Homo sapiens: one gene and its partners. The protein of the gene in region 2 purifies or fractionates together with the protein of the main gene of each other region. This does not show direct contact. Each region holds a gene or a part of one and is shown on either strand. Other genes may lie near its edges.

Region 1 (3,995 bases), on a different chromosome or scaffold from region 2:
CTTACAACGAATATAGAGGGAGAGATGACACACAGGTGACTGACTGGGAAGGTGTCTGGACAAAGCAACAACAACCAAGATAACCAATGCAGCTTCTGCCTGAACGATTACCATGAACCTGCTCCCATCTGTTCTGAATGTTCTTCACTATGAAGAAACTAATTTAATAAGCCTTGTTCTGGGTGCCAGACTATCACTCCATTTGGCCTACCTGCCACTGGCTCTGACGACAGCGGTGGTTCTCAAAGTATCTTCTAGTAAGCCAGACACTAAAGAGCTATGCAAAAATGTAAAACCACACCAGTCTTCTCATGAATTTATTAATTTATTGTTACTTTTCTTTTTTTTTTTTTTTTTTGAGATGGAGTCTCACTCTGTCGCCCAGGCTGGAGTGCAATGGCGCAATCTTGGCTCACTGCAACCTCTACCTCCCAGTTCAAGTGATTCTCCCACCTCAGCCTCTCAAGTAGCTGGGATTACAGGTGCCTACCACCATGCCTGGCTAATTTTTGTATTTTTAGTAGAGATGGGGTTTCACCATGTTGACCAGGCTGGTCTCGAACTCCTGACCTCAGGTGATCCGCCTGCCTTGGCCTCACAAAGTGCTGGGATTACAGGCGTGAGCCACTGTGCTCAGCAATTTATTGGTACTTTTAAGTGAACTAATGTTTTAAATTTTTCTATTTTAACTTTTTTCTTTCTTCTTTTTTTTTTTTTTTTCCCAGAACTGGGGTCTTCCTTTGTTGCCCAGGCTGAAGTGCAGTGGTACAATCATAGTTCACTGCAGCCTCAACCTCAACCTGGGCTCAAGTGATCCTCCTATCTCAGCCTCCAGAGTAATTAGGACTACGGGCACATACCACCATGCTTGGCTAATTTTTTTTTTTTTTTTTTTGTAGAGATGGGATGTTGCTATGTTGCCCAGATTGGTCAACATAGCAAGATCCTGGGCTCAAGTGATCCTCCTACCTTGACCTCCCAAAGTGTTGGGACTACAGGCATGAGCCACCACATCCAGCCAGTTTTAATTTCTAATACAGTAAATATTGATAGATATAATCCATATAAACCAAATCTCTGTGATATTCTCAATCTTTTTTTTTTTTTTTGAGACAGAGTTTCGCTTGTTGCCCAGGCTAGAATGCAATGGTACGATCTCGGCTCACCGCAATCTCTGCCTCCTGGGTTCAAGTGATTCTCCTGCCTCAGCCTCCCAAGTAGCTGGGATTACAGGCATGCGCCACCATGCCCAGCTAATTTTTCATTTTTAGTAGAGACGGGGTTTCTCCAAGTTGGTCAGGCTGGTCTCAAACTCCTGACCTCAAGTGATCCACCTGTCTCAGCCTCCCAAAGTGCTGGGATTACAGGTGTGAGCCACAGTGTCCAGCCTCAATCATTTTTAAGAGTGTAAAGAGATCCAGAGACAAAAAAATTTTTTGACAAAAAAAAAAAAAACAGAAATTTGTGTGTGAGCCTTAACATAAAATAAACTGGAACCACTGCTGCATTCTGCAGGCACCTCCTTGTATAAAATCCAAAAAAGGGGAGCAGGCTGAGAAGACCAAGCTGTTCTATATTTCTTTTTTCTATTCTAGGCCTCCTGCATACTGCAAAGGGAACCTTTCTAGTGTCAATTACACACACACACACGCGCGCGTACATGTGCAGCCACTGCAATGACAAATCTAACAGTGTGAAATATGCCCTTTTTTGTTTGTTTATTTTTTTCAGAGACAGAGTCTTACTCTGTCTCCTAGGCTGTAGCGCAGTGGTGTGATCATAACTCACTGCAACCTCCAACTCCTGAGCTCAAGCGATCCTCCCACCTCAGCCTCCCAAGTAGCAAGGGTGACAGGCAAGAGCCACCATGCCTGGCTATTTTTTTTCTTTAAAAATAAATAAATAAATAAATAGGGTATCTTATGCCTTTCACTAAGGTGTAAGTACTTTGTACTATTTTTGTGACTTTTCTGTTTAATTAAATCTAAAATTATTTCAAAATGAGAAGTTAAAAAGAAGCAACACATACTTGTTATTAAAAAGGTAATATAATGTATAATATAAAAGCCCTTAGTAGTCCTGCCCCAAGATGATTGCTGTTATATAATTCATAAATATAATTTGCTTTTTCTATATAAACAAATGTGTTTCTTTCTTAACAAAAACAGGTTTCTGTTTGACATGTCCACTTCTTTTTTTTTTAGTTTTTTATTTTATTTTATTTTTCTTGAGACAGTCTCACTCTGTTGCCTAGGCTGGAGTGCAGTGGCACAATCTCGACTCACTGCAACCTCTGCCTCCTGGGTTCAAGCAGTTCTCCCAAGTCTCCCAAGTAGCTGGGATTACAGGCGCATGCTACCACGCCCAGCTAATTTTTATATTTTTAGTAGAGACGGGGTTTCGCCACGTTGGCCAGGCTGGTCTTGAACTCCTGACCTCAGGTGATCCACCCGCCTCGACCTCCCAAAGTGCTGGGATTACAGGCGTGAGCCACGGGGCCCAGTCATGTCCACTTCTTTATATAGAATTTCCCTTATCCATTTTAGCAGCAACATAGAGTTCCACATAGAATTTACACTGTTCTCTGCAGTCTCCTAACTTCTGTTTCTGTACTCTTTCAATAGTGCCTTGCAGCTTTTTAGTTCTCTATTCCTCAGGTTTGTTTCCTATAAAATGGCAATACCTACTCTGCCTATTTCACACTTGTGAGGATAAAATGAGATAATATGAAAACATTTGGAAAAGTTACAAGTAAGACAGAAATGTAAGGTGTGATTAAGCAGATTATTACTATCAATTATATGAAGCATAATTTTGATTCCCTTATGAAATGAATTTCTAATGTTTATATAATGTTAACAGGTTTTTTTAGAGCCTGTGAGTTGTTTTCTCTCTCCGCCTATGCTTCTTCACCCCTCCCCTTCCTCAACCCCATAGACTCCACACTGTTAAAAGTATTCTTGAAACAGAAATTCTAAAACTCACCACCTGCATTAGGTTACAATACCTGTCCTTGATATCTCTGTGGTCTATACAGACCTTTATAAAAATGTTATACTACAAAACCGTGAAAACCTTTTTTAGCGATTTCCATTCTAGATTTTTTTTTTCCTTTAAATTGGGGGCTGATTATGGTGGCTCACGCCTATAATATCAGCACTTTGGGATTATATTAACCACCACGCCCAGCCAATTCTCTTTTTTTGACACAGGGTCTTGCTCTATTGCCCAGGCTGGAGTGTAGTGACACGATCATGGCACACTGCAGCCTCAAACTCCTGGGCTCACGTGATCCTCCCGCCTCAGCCTCCCAAGTAGCTGGGACTACAGGAATGTGACACCACACCCAGCTAATTTTTTTGAATTTTAGTAGAGATGAGGTCTCGCTATGTTACCTAGGCTAGTCTTGAACTCCTGGACTCAAGCAATCCTCTTGCCTTAGCCTCCCAAAGTGCTGGGGTTACAGCCATCACACCCGGCCAAAAATTCTTATTACATCTGAGCAAGACGACTCAAGCCTCAGACAGTATCTCTCTTTTCTGAGACAGGAATCCTTACTTTGGACATGAACATAGTATTCATTCTCTTTAATGTTCAACTATTCTTGCTACAAGATAGGCAAAGTACTGATTTTAGTACTCAGCTATTTATTTGGTTTTTAAAAGTGTTGGGTGGGTGCGGTGGCTCATGCCTATAATCCCAGTACTTTGAGAGGTCAAGGTGAGTGGCTCACTTGAGCCCAGGAGTTCAAGACCAGCCTATACAACACGGCGAGACTCCATCTTTATAAAAACGCAAAAACGCAAAAAAAAAAAAAAAAAAAAAAAGCCAGGCATGGTAGTATATGCCTTTGGTCCCAGCTACTCGGTCAGCTGAAGTGTAAGGATCTCTTGAACCCAGGAGATGAAGGATACAGTGAGCTGTGATCTCGCTGCTGGACTCCAGCCTGGGCGACAGAATGAGACCCTGTCTCAAAAAAAAAAAAAAAAGTGTTT
Region 2 (3,995 bases):
GCACATCACCTACTCACACATCCCTATTGATTCTACCTTCTAAATTGCTCTTAAAATGATTCCCCGCTTTGCATTGTCTCCAACTTGATCTAGGCTCCATTCTCTATGGCCTGCGCTCTTGCAATGGCCTCCTAGCTGCCTCCATTCCTCAACCACTCAATTCCATCTTCCATGCTGTACCCTTCAATGGCCCCCAGTTGCCTACAGGGTCAAGTCTGAAGTCATTCCTATGGCCAATGAGCTCTCTATCATCTGATCTCTGGCTACACCTCTGTCTTACCTCCTACCACACCTTCTGTAACTACCTCCACCCACTACCTCTTCACAACTACCAGGAATATCCTTCCCACCTCTGTCTTCTTTTGGTTTGTCTCCTGATTCCCTACTTATTCTGTAAGTCTCAGCTCCCATATCACCTACTCTTTGACACTTTTCCCTCCCGGCAAACTCTGACTTTCATTCATTGGGCCTCCAGAATCCCCACCACATCCACTGATCCCCACTGCACTTATCACATTATATTGCAATCGATTGTTCACATGTCCATCCTCTTTACTAGTCTACGAGCTCTTCAGTGGCAATCTCTGTATTCCTAGCGCCCAAATATATTTTGAAAGAAAGAATAAAGGATGTTTTAGCAATTTGGAGTGCACAGAGCCAGAGTGGCTGTAGCAGAACCAGCACCAAAACTGCTCCTGCCTCAGAACCTTTGCACTTGCTATTCCCTCTGCTTGAAGCACTCTTTCTCCAGGTATCTACCTGGGTTGCCCACCCACCCCCAACTACTTTCAGGTCTGCACAAATGTCACCTGCTCAAAGAGGCCTTCCCTGGCTACTCTATCTAACATACAGTGTGCGTGCATGTGCACGTGCACGCACACACACACACACACACACCCCTCATCACTATCTACCTCTCCTGCTTCATTTTTCTTCAGAGCTCTGATCACCACCTGGCATTATATTATATATTTCTGTATTTGTTGACTGTCTCCCCTACTAGAATATAAGCTCCACAGGGGAAAGGACTTCTGTTTTGTTGGCTGCTGAACCTTCAGTGTCTAGAACAGAGCCAGGCACCGAGAAGGTACTCAGTAACTATTTATTGAACATTGTTAAACTTGGATATAGACAGAGCTGAGTTTGAATCCTATACATATTATTTTCAAGTTCTGTGTAACCTTGGGCTAGTTGTCTGTTTCCTTTGAACTTCACTCTCCTCATCTATAAAATGAGGATTACTCTGCATACATCATAAGTAAGAATTAAATGAGATCAAGTATGTGAAAGTACCTAGCATGATGCCTGGCACAGAGAAGGCAAGTAATGTCTGTTAGCCAAAATCTGTTAACAGATCAATGTCTTCCACTTCCCTAATTCCCACAATGCACCCTTCCTTAACCTCAGCCCTTCTAGTGTCCGTTGTGGTCAGACCATTATTCCTGTGTCTGGGCCTCAACACTTACTTGCCACAGTTGTAGAGGTCACAGCAGAAGCAGGTGTTGCCCCGGATGCGAGGTGTGCAGAATTCACGGCTGAGGTGAGGGCAGTTAACCTGACGGTATATAACAGTGAGGAGATGAGCTGGCATTGGATAGGAAGCAGGACCCTCTGGGATTGGAAATGCGAGTTAGTGACTGATGGAGACAGTAAGGATGGCTTTGAAATGAACACCCAATGTGTGGGAAGGATGGGGCTGGATGGGGAGCTGGCCGAACTTGTGCATGAGGCAAGTCACTGTGTAGCTGGGCTCATGTCCAGCCTCTGCCACAGCCCTCAGTGCCCCATCCCTGAATGGTGGAGATGGAGAGAAGGAAGGACAGATGGAAGGACAGACGGAAGAACAAATGGACTGAAGGAAATGAGAATATGAGGGCAGGCAAAATCAGGGTACAGGAGGAAAGAAGATAAGGTGGGAAGGAAGACAGAGGAGCCGGCGCATGCACTCTGAAGTACAATAGTACCTCTCTAGCTGCCTGGGTAAGGTTCCTCATAACCCTCGTGGAAGGAGAATTTTTGGTTGAGGAACTTATGACCTTATGTAGGAAAAATAGGGTTAGGGGGACCAGGGTTACAAGTGAACCTATGGAAGTCATTATTAATATTTTTACAGTCACCAAATTAACGCAAGAAAGCTATCACAACAAAATCTAGAGAACAGCAATGACATTTTACACATTTTGAGTTAGCAAAAAGGTTTTAAAAACGGAAAAGAATTTCATTTACCATCTCTTGTTAGCAAGAAATTGTCCAGCTCTCTCCCCCATCCAGATGCAATGAAGTGCTGCTAAATTTGTCTTGCTTTGTTATAGAGAATATTCATAGCAAATGGGCATTTTTTTCTATATTGGGTCCTTCATCCAAATGCTTACTGCCTTTCAGATAAGCTGTTATCATATATGCATTTCTATTCCTCCTATCTAACCTGAGAACAGTGAGAGAAATAGTAAATTTATGGTTGTTAAAAGAAAAAGGAGTCAAGTGGATGGCAGAGACATAATCAAAGTATTTGCCATGGTGCCTTTGGAGCAGGACTGCTTTGCCTTACTCCAAGGGCACCCATTCACATTGTATTTTATGTAAAATGGCTTCCCCTGAAGCTGTGCAATGCAGTGGCCATTTTACATCCAATTGCCTTCCTTTTCTCTTCCCAACTGAAAGTTTACCATTTTTCTAACTATTTGGGAATGATTGACTTTCAATGTGAGGTTAATAGAGTACAAAATTGTCAAGATTCCTGGAAGCCTAGGTACAGTTTCATATGGAGAAATCCCTGGGTTGGGAAGGGATTATTGTATACTGAAATGAAAGCTCTCCAAAAATGACCTGGAGTCATACTTTGCCTCACTACGCATTGCATCTAGCTCTGCTTGAGGCAACATGGAACATAAGGAGAGCTGTTTGGGGCAGAAGAGAGACTCATCTGTGCATGCTCAAGCATTATTAGGCTGGCCTCTTGGAGGTGTTATGAGAGGGGCCAGGCTGACAGTCCCAGCCTCCCCAGAGCATAAAGGTGGATCTGGCTTCTCAGTTACCCTCATTTGGCTTCCAGACCCATCCTATGTGTGGAACTCAGGCTCTGCCTCCGTAGTTCAGGCCTAGTGCCCTGGTGGGGCTTCCACTTTTATTCCAACTGAGCACTGAGTTCAGGCAACTGAACCATCATCCACAGAGATGGGGGAGGGTCATGTCCTGTGGCCTCTGTACTCTCATTTGTCCCCCTGAGGATCAAAGCCACATATGGGGAGGCTCCCGGCTGGGGTCAGAGGGTCAGCCTGTGGCCACAGAACAAAGTAAAACTGATTAGGCCTCATGAGGCTCCAACCTATGACCATGGCCTCATTAGCAATGTGCTCTGACCCACTGAACAAATCAGCTATACATACCTAGAAATAAAACTTAGGCCCATGAAAAGGAGTAAAAGAAAGGGTGTTTCAGGCAGAACAGGGGACTTTCCCAGGAGGTAAAGACATGCAGCCTCATTCTGGCTCACCTCCTCAGCTTCCTTCTGTGATGTCTTGGGAACATAATGGCACCGGTTAGCGTAGAGTGGTTTCAGATCCTGAAAAGGGAAACACCAAAACAAAGGGGTTTTGACTTTGGAAAATAAAACAGCAAGTGTTGTACTTGGTAATAAAAGGTTTGAATACACACACACACACACACACACACACACAGAAGCAGGCAGGCAGTAGATTGGGTTAATTTCTGAAAGTCACCTGTCTAGGGAGACTGAGTGAAGATTAGACAAAAATACTTTAAAAATTACTTTCTATTAGACTACTTGGTTAATGAGAAATTATGAAACTGATTGAGAAATGGGCTTCTTGAAATTTCCTCTCTGGTTTTCTTTTACTTCTGGCCTTTGTCTTCTTGTAAACAGTCCTCAGGGAACAAGATGCAAAACTCCAGGTTATTATGAAATGACACTTTCAAGCAGAGAGAGCTCAAGTCCAACAATGAGGTTTCATTATCACCTGGGGACAGGACTATGG
Region 3 (3,995 bases), on a different chromosome or scaffold from region 2:
CATTATTAACTCTACTTAACATTTCCAGCAGTATATCATCTAGAATTAAACAGACAATTACTTAGCTGGACTTTAGACACAAAAACTGGAAGAAAAGTCACTGGCACATGAAACATAACGCATGCTAGAAAATACTCTTTACAAAGAATTAACTATGGGACTATAAATCAACCCAGATTTTATTATAATAATAATTTAGACAAGAGCAACAAAATCAAAAAGAACAACAAAAATATCATTTAACTGTTATGGGTAGGAACGTGTTCCTGAAGTTCATGTATTAGAAACCTAATCCCTAAAGCAACGAAGATGGGAGGTGGGGCCTATCAAGAGATGATTAGGTCTTAAGGGTTCTGCCCTCATAAATGGGTTAATGTCGTTACTGTAGGAGTGGGTTAGTTATCAAGAGAGTTGGCTTATTATAAGCGTGAATTGAGCTCTTAAGTGTGTCCTTCTGTCATCAGATGATGTTGCAAGGAGGTTCTCACCAGATGCAGCCCCTCCATTCTGAACTTCAGGTATCCTGTTATAGTAGTACAAAATGGACTAAGAAAATATCAGAAATTTCCAACGTGAACTAGGCATAGTAAATGGCTAATCACAAACTACTAGACAATAATAAAATCCTCAAAAAAAAAAAAAAAAACCAAACCAAACCAAAACAAAACCATTACATTGGCCAGAAATTAACACCTTACCCATCAATAAGGATCTTAGTTATACCACATGGTAGAGCCATACAACTAAACAGTACACTGACATGCAACAAAAGGAAATCTAAATCTGTATGTACTGAGGAAGAATGAGGCATACGATACACAGAAAGAAAGCAGCAGAGTACATATAATCTGATTTCACTTTTAGAAAACTGGCTTCTCCTCTAAAAAAGATGCCTGTATGTTTTCCCAAGCACGCACAGAAAAGCTTTTGGAAGGATACAAAGAATGGGATGTGAAGAGGAAGTGTTCCCCCATCCATGTATGTATATTATTTTGTAGAGTTTTCTGTGTAATGATCTTGAGCCATCCTGCTCCCCTAATCTGAAAGTAGGGATACACTGGGAAGTAATTTGTAATAGTAGTAAACACCATGTGTTGTCTTAACAAGTGAGACTTGGGTCCCAGTACTAGATGTGCTATCAGTACTAGCTATGCTAACCTTGGGTATATCTCTCTTTCTGCAGTTTTCTTGCCTATTCAAGGTTGTTGGAAATGTTAAATATGACTTTATTCTTACTTATGATTAAACAGACTTTGATATGCATGCAAAGTCCTTGGCCTAGTGCCTGGCACATTAGGCACTCTAAATAGAATGTTAGTTACAGGAAACTGAAGAGGCAACAGAGAAATTAGCATTATCTAACCAAATGAAGAACACAGCCCAGACTGATAATGTCTGTTCTTAACTGCTTTAATCATAGTTATTAGAAATCCCAACACTTTGAACTAGAGTAGTGGCTCTAAACTGGGGTTGATTTTGTTCCCCCAGGAGATAACGGTTGTCACAACTGTGTTTGTGCTGCTGGCATCTTTGGGTAGAGGCCAGGGATGCTGCTTAACATCCCACAACGTGCAGGACAGCCTCCGCAACAAAGAATTACATGCATGATGTGGCATTCACATGTAGAAAAAAAAAAAGAATTATGTGGCCCAAAATGCCAATAGTGCCAAGGCTGAGAAACCCTGAACTAGAGCAGTAGAGGTTTAAAATCCAGCAAACAAGCAAGCAAAATCAGAACACAGGTGTTTAGGTTCATCCCCAATTAGGAAGCGTGGGCCAGAATGCTAGCTCCACAGGTGATATGATTTGCAGCTAAGGTTGGAAATTAACATATTTTAAGAAGCATATTTCATAAATTTTGACTATAACAAAGCAACTTATAATAAATTTGAATATAATAAAGCAACTTATATTATTTTAGAATTACCTATGATAGCCAATTTTCATGCAAATTACCAGACAGAAAACACTCATGTTAGAAAAACCAAAAAAGCTTGTGGCAATGTTCTTACAGTATTAAAACAAACAGCCTTTTGAGAAATGGTAGTTTAAGAATATAATAATGATAAAATAAGAGCAGGTCCACCAGGAAAATGCAAACCAAAACCACAAAATACCACTTCACGTCCACTAGAATGACTATAATAATAAAGAGATAATAAAGCAAGTGAGCATGTGAAGAAACTGGAACCCTCCAGACAATGCTGCTAGGAAAGCAGAATGGTGCAGTCACTTTGGAAAACATCCTGGTTATTTCTCAAAAGGTTAAACATACAGTTACCATATGACCCCAACAATCCTTCTCCTGAGTGTTTACCCAAGAGAACTGAATACACATTGGGCCAGACACAGTGGCTTACGCCTGTAATCCTAGCACTTTGGGAGGGCAAGGCGGGTGGATCGCTTGAGCCCAACAGTTCAAGACCAGCCTGGGCAACATGGCAAAACTGTCTCTACCAAAAAAAAAAAAACAAAAATTCATCCAGGTGTATTGGTGAGCACCTGTAGTCCCAGCTACTTGGGGAGCTGAGGTGGGAGGATCACCAGAGCCCAGGGAGGTCAAGGCTGCGGTGGGCCATGACTGCGCCACTGCATAATCATGCTAGCCTGGGTGACAGAGACCCTGCCTCAAAACAAAAAAACAAACAAACAAACAAAAAAAGTCTACACACAAAAATTATACATGAGTATTTATAGCATCACAACTCAACAGCTACAAAAAGAGAAACACAAATGTCCACCAACCAATGAATGGAGAATATGTGGCATATTACAATGAAATATTATTTCACAATACAAGTGAATGCTACAAAATGAACCGTGAAAACTTTATGCTAAGTTAAAGAAGATGGTCACAAAGGACAATGCATTGTATGACTCCATTTACATGAAATGTCTAGAATAGGCAAACCCAGAGACAGAATATTGACTAGTAGTTGCCCAGAGCCAGTGAACAATAGGGAGTTACTGCTAAAGGGTATGGGTGATGAAAACATAGTCTACAACTGATTGTGGTAATGGTTGAACAGCTCTCTGAATATACTAAAAACCAATGAAATGTATACTTTAATGGGTAGTAAACTGTACAGTAGATGAATTATACCCCAATAAAGTTATCATCAAAGTAGGCAACTGTGCTTTTCCCTTTCTGACTTACTTAGATTCCAGTCAGAAATTGTATCATCATCATCAATTTCATCATCATCATCATCTTCCTCTTCAATTCCATCTTCATCATGCTGCTGAGCCACCGTCCTCGATCGGTGAAAACGTGGCCGTATATCCTGTTCACTATCAGGAATCGTTTCGTCTTCTTCAACATCACCCTGTTGTTTTTTTAAGAGAAATTTTTGGTGGCATTCATTATAGGCTAATAGTATGTACATGAGTAAGAGAAACAGAATATCCAGAGATGGGGTCATGCACAGAATTCTGAAATATACTTCCAGAGTGATTAAGAACCACGCCCATGTACAGAACATATTCCTTATGGAGGGGCGAATAGACTGACCTAACACACCTGTTAGGTTATACGGCCCTTTCAGCCAACTACATGGCCTCCACTGGCTGGTATAATCTAAGTTACCTGAATCAAATTCAGAGCAGCATATATAAGAATGTTTTTAAAATAACTCCAAGTAATTAAGGGGAAATTAATAATAACCCTACCAATGTCACCATCTAGTACCAAATTAAGCAAGAATTTATCATTACTTAAACTTATGCTTCTATCCTATTATGGATAATAGGAAGTCTATTTACAGGAGATCTATTCTCAATGAATGTTTTATTGGCCAAATCCAAAGATGTACTAAGTCAATATAAAAATCTTGTTCCCTATTCATCAAAAAAGCTTCCTTACCTTAAGTAGGATAATATCTATGTCTGAGTACTTCATGCCATTCACTAACACAGGAATCAACCTATAAAGAAAGAAATTCATGAAACAAAGACCTTAAGATCTCAAGAGAATAATTAATAAGTCTTAACCTTAC
Region 4 (3,995 bases), on a different chromosome or scaffold from region 2:
GAGATGGAGTCTCGCCCTGTCGCCCAGGCCGGAGTGCAGTGGTGCAATCTCGGCTCACTGCAACCTCTGCCTCCCAGGTTCAAGTAATTCTCCTGCCTCAGCCTCCCGTGTAGCTGGGACTACAGGTGTGTGCCACCACGCCTGACTAATTTTTGTATTTTTTTAGTAGAGATGGGGTTTCACCATGTTGGTCAGGCTGGTCTCGAACTCCCGACCTCAGGTGATCTGCCCGCCTCAGCCTCCCAAAGTGCTGGGATTACAGGCGTGAGGCACTGCGCCCAGCTTGGCCACTCTTTATGGAGATGAGCCTTTAGCATGTGATCGAGTCACATGCAGCTCCTGTGAGCCACTTGAAACCAGTCTCATGGGGTACGCTTCAGCAGCTGCTTGTGAACCATGCTTTTTTTTTTTTTTTTTTTTTTTTTTGAGACAGAGTCTCACTCTCTCCCCCAGGCTGGCCTCCCAAAGTGCTAGGATTACAGGAGTGAGCCACCACACCCAGCCTGAACCATGCTTCTAAGAACATAATATCAAGCTGCTCTTTATGATGGTGTCTTGATTTTGGCGGGGAGAGGGAGGACAAGGTCTCACTCCCGTTGCCCAGGTTGGAGTGCAGTGGCGTGATCACAGCTCACTGCAGCCTTGGCTTCCCAGGCTCAGGTGATTTTCCTACCTCAGCCTACCGAGTAGCTGGGACTACAGCTGCAAGCTACCACACCTGGCTAATTTTTTGTATTTTGGGTAGAAACGAGCCTTGTTGGCCAGGCTGGTCTCAAACTCCTGAACTCAAGCAACCCGCCCACCTCATCCTCCCAAAGTTCTGGAATTACAGGTGTGAGCTACCGCACCTGGCCTTGATTTTGATATTAACTCAGATACAGTAACAAGAGCGAAAGGGAATTTGCCCACCTAGTTAGAGGAAAGAAAGATGTTACGGCACATCTATTTCACATCCTGCCATTCGTCATATGTTTGTCGTGTGTTTGAATGGCCATAATAGCTTCTATTTGGCCCTTGGGATTCTGTAAGTAATTGAAAGTCCTTGCCCTCAAGAAGCTTGAAGTCGGCCGGGCGCGGTGGCTCACGCCTGTAATCCCAGCACTTTGGGAGGCCGAGACGGGCAGATCATGAGGTCAGGAGATCGAGACCATCCTGGCTAACACGGTGAAACCCCGTCTCTACTAAAAATACAAAAAAAATTAGCCAGGCATGGTGATGGGTGCCTGTAGTCCCAGCTGCTCGGGAGGCTGAAGCAGGAGAATGGTGTGAACCCAGGAGGCGGAGCTTGTAGTGAGCCAAGATCGCACCACTGCACCACTCCAGCCTGGGCGACAGAGGGAGACTCCATCTCAAAAAAAAAAAAAAGAAGCTTGAAGTATAGCCAGGAAAATAGACCCTCTCTTTCATGCGATTAGACTGTTTTAAGAAACTGCAACTACAGAGTTAACAGTAAGAAGGCAGAGTCGTGCTCCACCATGACTACCTGTGTTGTAGCATAATTGCCTCTTTTCCCATCAGATACTGGTAGTAGATGCTTTAGGTATAATCTATTGCAGCACAGAATTTTCCTGCCATTAAGAAGGCAGGAAAATTATTCTTTTTTCTTCTTTTTTTGAGGCAGAGTTTTCCTCTGTCACCCAGGCAGGAGTGCAGTGGCATGATCTCGGCTTACTGCAACCTCTGCCTCCCAGGTTCAAGCGATTCTCATGTCTCAGCCACCTGAGTAGCTGTGATTACAGGTGTGTGCCACAATGCCTGGCTAATTTTTGTATTTTTAGTAGAGATGGTGTTTCGCCATATTGACCAGGCTGGTCTTGAACTTCAGGCCTCAAGTGATCCACTTGCCTCAGCCTCCCAAAGTGCTGGGATTACAGGCATGAGGCACCATGCCTGGCATAAGTTTACTTTTAAAAGTAAAAAATAATGCCTTGGTCTTTCTATGTTAGATTTCATATATCAAAGTTTTCTGGCTCTAGGCCAGGTATGGTGGCTCACGCCTGTAATCCCAGCACTCTGGGAGGCTGAGGAGGGCAGATCACTTGAGGTCAGGAGTTCAAGACCAGCCTGGCCAACATGGTGAAACCCTGTCTACTGGCCGGGCGTGGTGGCTCATGCCTGTAATCCCAGCACTTTGGGAGGCCGAGGCAGGTGGATCACCTGAGGTCAGGAGTTCAAGACGAGCCTGACTAACATGGAGAAACCCTGTCTCTACTAAAAATACAAAAGTAGCTGGGGTGGTGGCACATGCCTGTAATCCCAGCTACTTGGGAGGCTGAGGCAGGAGAATGGCTTGAACCCGGGAGGAGGAGGTTGTGGTGAGCCGAGATCACGCCATTGCACTCCAGCCTGGGCAACAGGAGCGAAACTCCCATCTAAAAAAAAAAAAAGAAAGAAAGAAACCCTGTCTACTAAAAATACGAAAATTGTCTGAGTGTGGTAGCGGGCGCCTATAATCCCAGCTACTTGGGAGGCTGAGGCAGGAGAATCGCTTGAACTAAGATAGCAGAGGTTGCAGTGAGCTGAGATGGCACCACTGCACCCCAGCCTGGGCAACAGAGTGAGACTCCATCTCAAAAAAAAAAAGTTTTCTGGCTCTAACTGGAATATTTGGATGAATAACTGACACTAATGATGAAAAATTAACTCTTTTATCCACTTTATCTCCAGCAGTTTGCAAAAGTGAAGAGAAGGGCTTATTCATTTAGTTTTCTTCCATCTAGCTGACAGCTCAAAGGCTCCTTTTTGATGTTCAAAGGTGGCTTTGTAGTTGGTTTGCAGATTACCACTTGGAATGTGATCCAGTGTCACCAGTCTCTTTGCTATCTTACCTTTACGTGGTATCTTTCACTATTGTAGATATTTAATAGTTTAGACATTTTGGTAATCTAGCCTTATCCTCAGTTTCCCACATTCTAAAAAAATGATTGCTTACTATAGATTTTAAAGTACCATGAATTATGTAATTTGAAATGATTCAAGTCATGGTACCTGAACATTCTCCCTTCTTCGTCATTAGCTAATTCCTGGAGAGCATTATAAGATTTCTGTTTGATGACCGCAATTAAATTAATTAGTCTTCTAGATTCTGAAGGCTTGTGGATTTATACCCCTTTGGAAGCTTTTTTGTTCTAGGAATGTCAAGACCTTTTTGATGTTAACTATCTTTCCATCTGTCCTTTTTATGTAGTGAAACTGAAAAATGGATTTGATGTTATTCAAAGACACCCTCTTTTATACTTGTTGTATGTGGCTCTAAGATGAAGTTGGCTGTGTGTGGATTTTCGTTTTGTTTCATTTTGTATTTTTCTTTATTTTTTTGTGTGTGGATTTTCAAACATGTTACCTCCTTGAACTTACCTGTAGCCCCTCACACATGCAGGATTCAAGCCAAGCCCAAGATGTGGGCCTCAACCCTACCTTCGGTTTCATGACCTCTTAGCTCTTAGTGGCTGCCACCTAACTACTTTCCTCTGTTTCTTTTTTTTTCTTTTTTCTTTTTTTTTTTTTTTTTTTGGAGACAGAGTCTCGCTGTGTTGACCAGGCTGGAGTGCAGTGATGCGATCTCAGCTCACTGCAACCTCTGCCTCCTGGGTTCCAGCGATTCACCTGCCTCAGCTTCCCGAGTAGCTAGATTACAGGTGTGCACCACCACGCCCGGCTAATTTTTGTATTTTTAGTAGAGACAGGGTATCCCCATGTTGGCCACACTGGCCTCAAACTCTTGATCTTAGGCGAGCCACCAACCTCAGCCTCCCAAAGTGCTGGGATTACAGGCGTGAGCAACCATACCCAGACTCCTATTTCTTAGAATAGTATTTTTTGTAGGTGATTGATCCTGGTGCATTTGAGAGCACAAGTGGTTTACTTTGGAAGGGAGAAAAAAGAGGCAGTATAATGGCATCTTAAATACCTGGGACTTTGACAGCTGTGGCCAACATCACAGATCTTTTGTGATACTCTGAATTTTGTACTTATACAATTGGTTTCCAAAATAA

The links. Proteins that work in one complex are often made in the same cells at the same time.
Region 1: the proteins of TMEM255A (region 2) and MACO1 purify together in Homo sapiens (affinity purification with mass spectrometry; one large-scale study listed by BioGRID and IntAct). This does not show direct contact.
Region 3: the proteins of TMEM255A (region 2) and TNPO1 purify together in Homo sapiens (affinity purification with mass spectrometry; one large-scale study listed by BioGRID and IntAct). This does not show direct contact.
Region 4: the proteins of TMEM255A (region 2) and KCTD2 purify together in Homo sapiens (affinity purification with mass spectrometry; 3 studies listed by BioGRID and IntAct, with this or other methods). This does not show direct contact.

What each region holds. Positions count from the first base shown.
Region 1 is NC_000001.11:25,437,131-25,441,125, reverse strand, and holds part of MACO1 (macoilin), read right to left. Parts: intron 1-3,995. UniProt on the Homo sapiens protein: Plays a role in the regulation of neuronal activity.
Region 2 is NC_000023.11:120,283,661-120,287,655, forward strand, and holds part of TMEM255A (transmembrane protein 255A), read right to left. Parts: intron 3,563-3,995; coding exon 3,494-3,562; intron 2,037-3,493; coding exon of another isoform or gene 1,965-2,036; intron 1,556-1,964; coding exon 1,467-1,555; intron 1-1,466.
Region 3 is NC_000005.10:72,882,395-72,886,389, reverse strand, and holds part of TNPO1 (transportin-1), read right to left. Parts: intron 3,924-3,995; coding exon 3,863-3,923; intron 3,327-3,862; coding exon 3,158-3,326; intron 1-3,157. UniProt on the Homo sapiens protein: Functions in nuclear protein import as nuclear transport receptor. Serves as receptor for nuclear localization signals (NLS) in cargo substrates.
Region 4 is NC_000017.11:75,053,459-75,057,453, forward strand, and holds part of KCTD2 (BTB/POZ domain-containing protein KCTD2), read left to right. Parts: intron 1-3,995.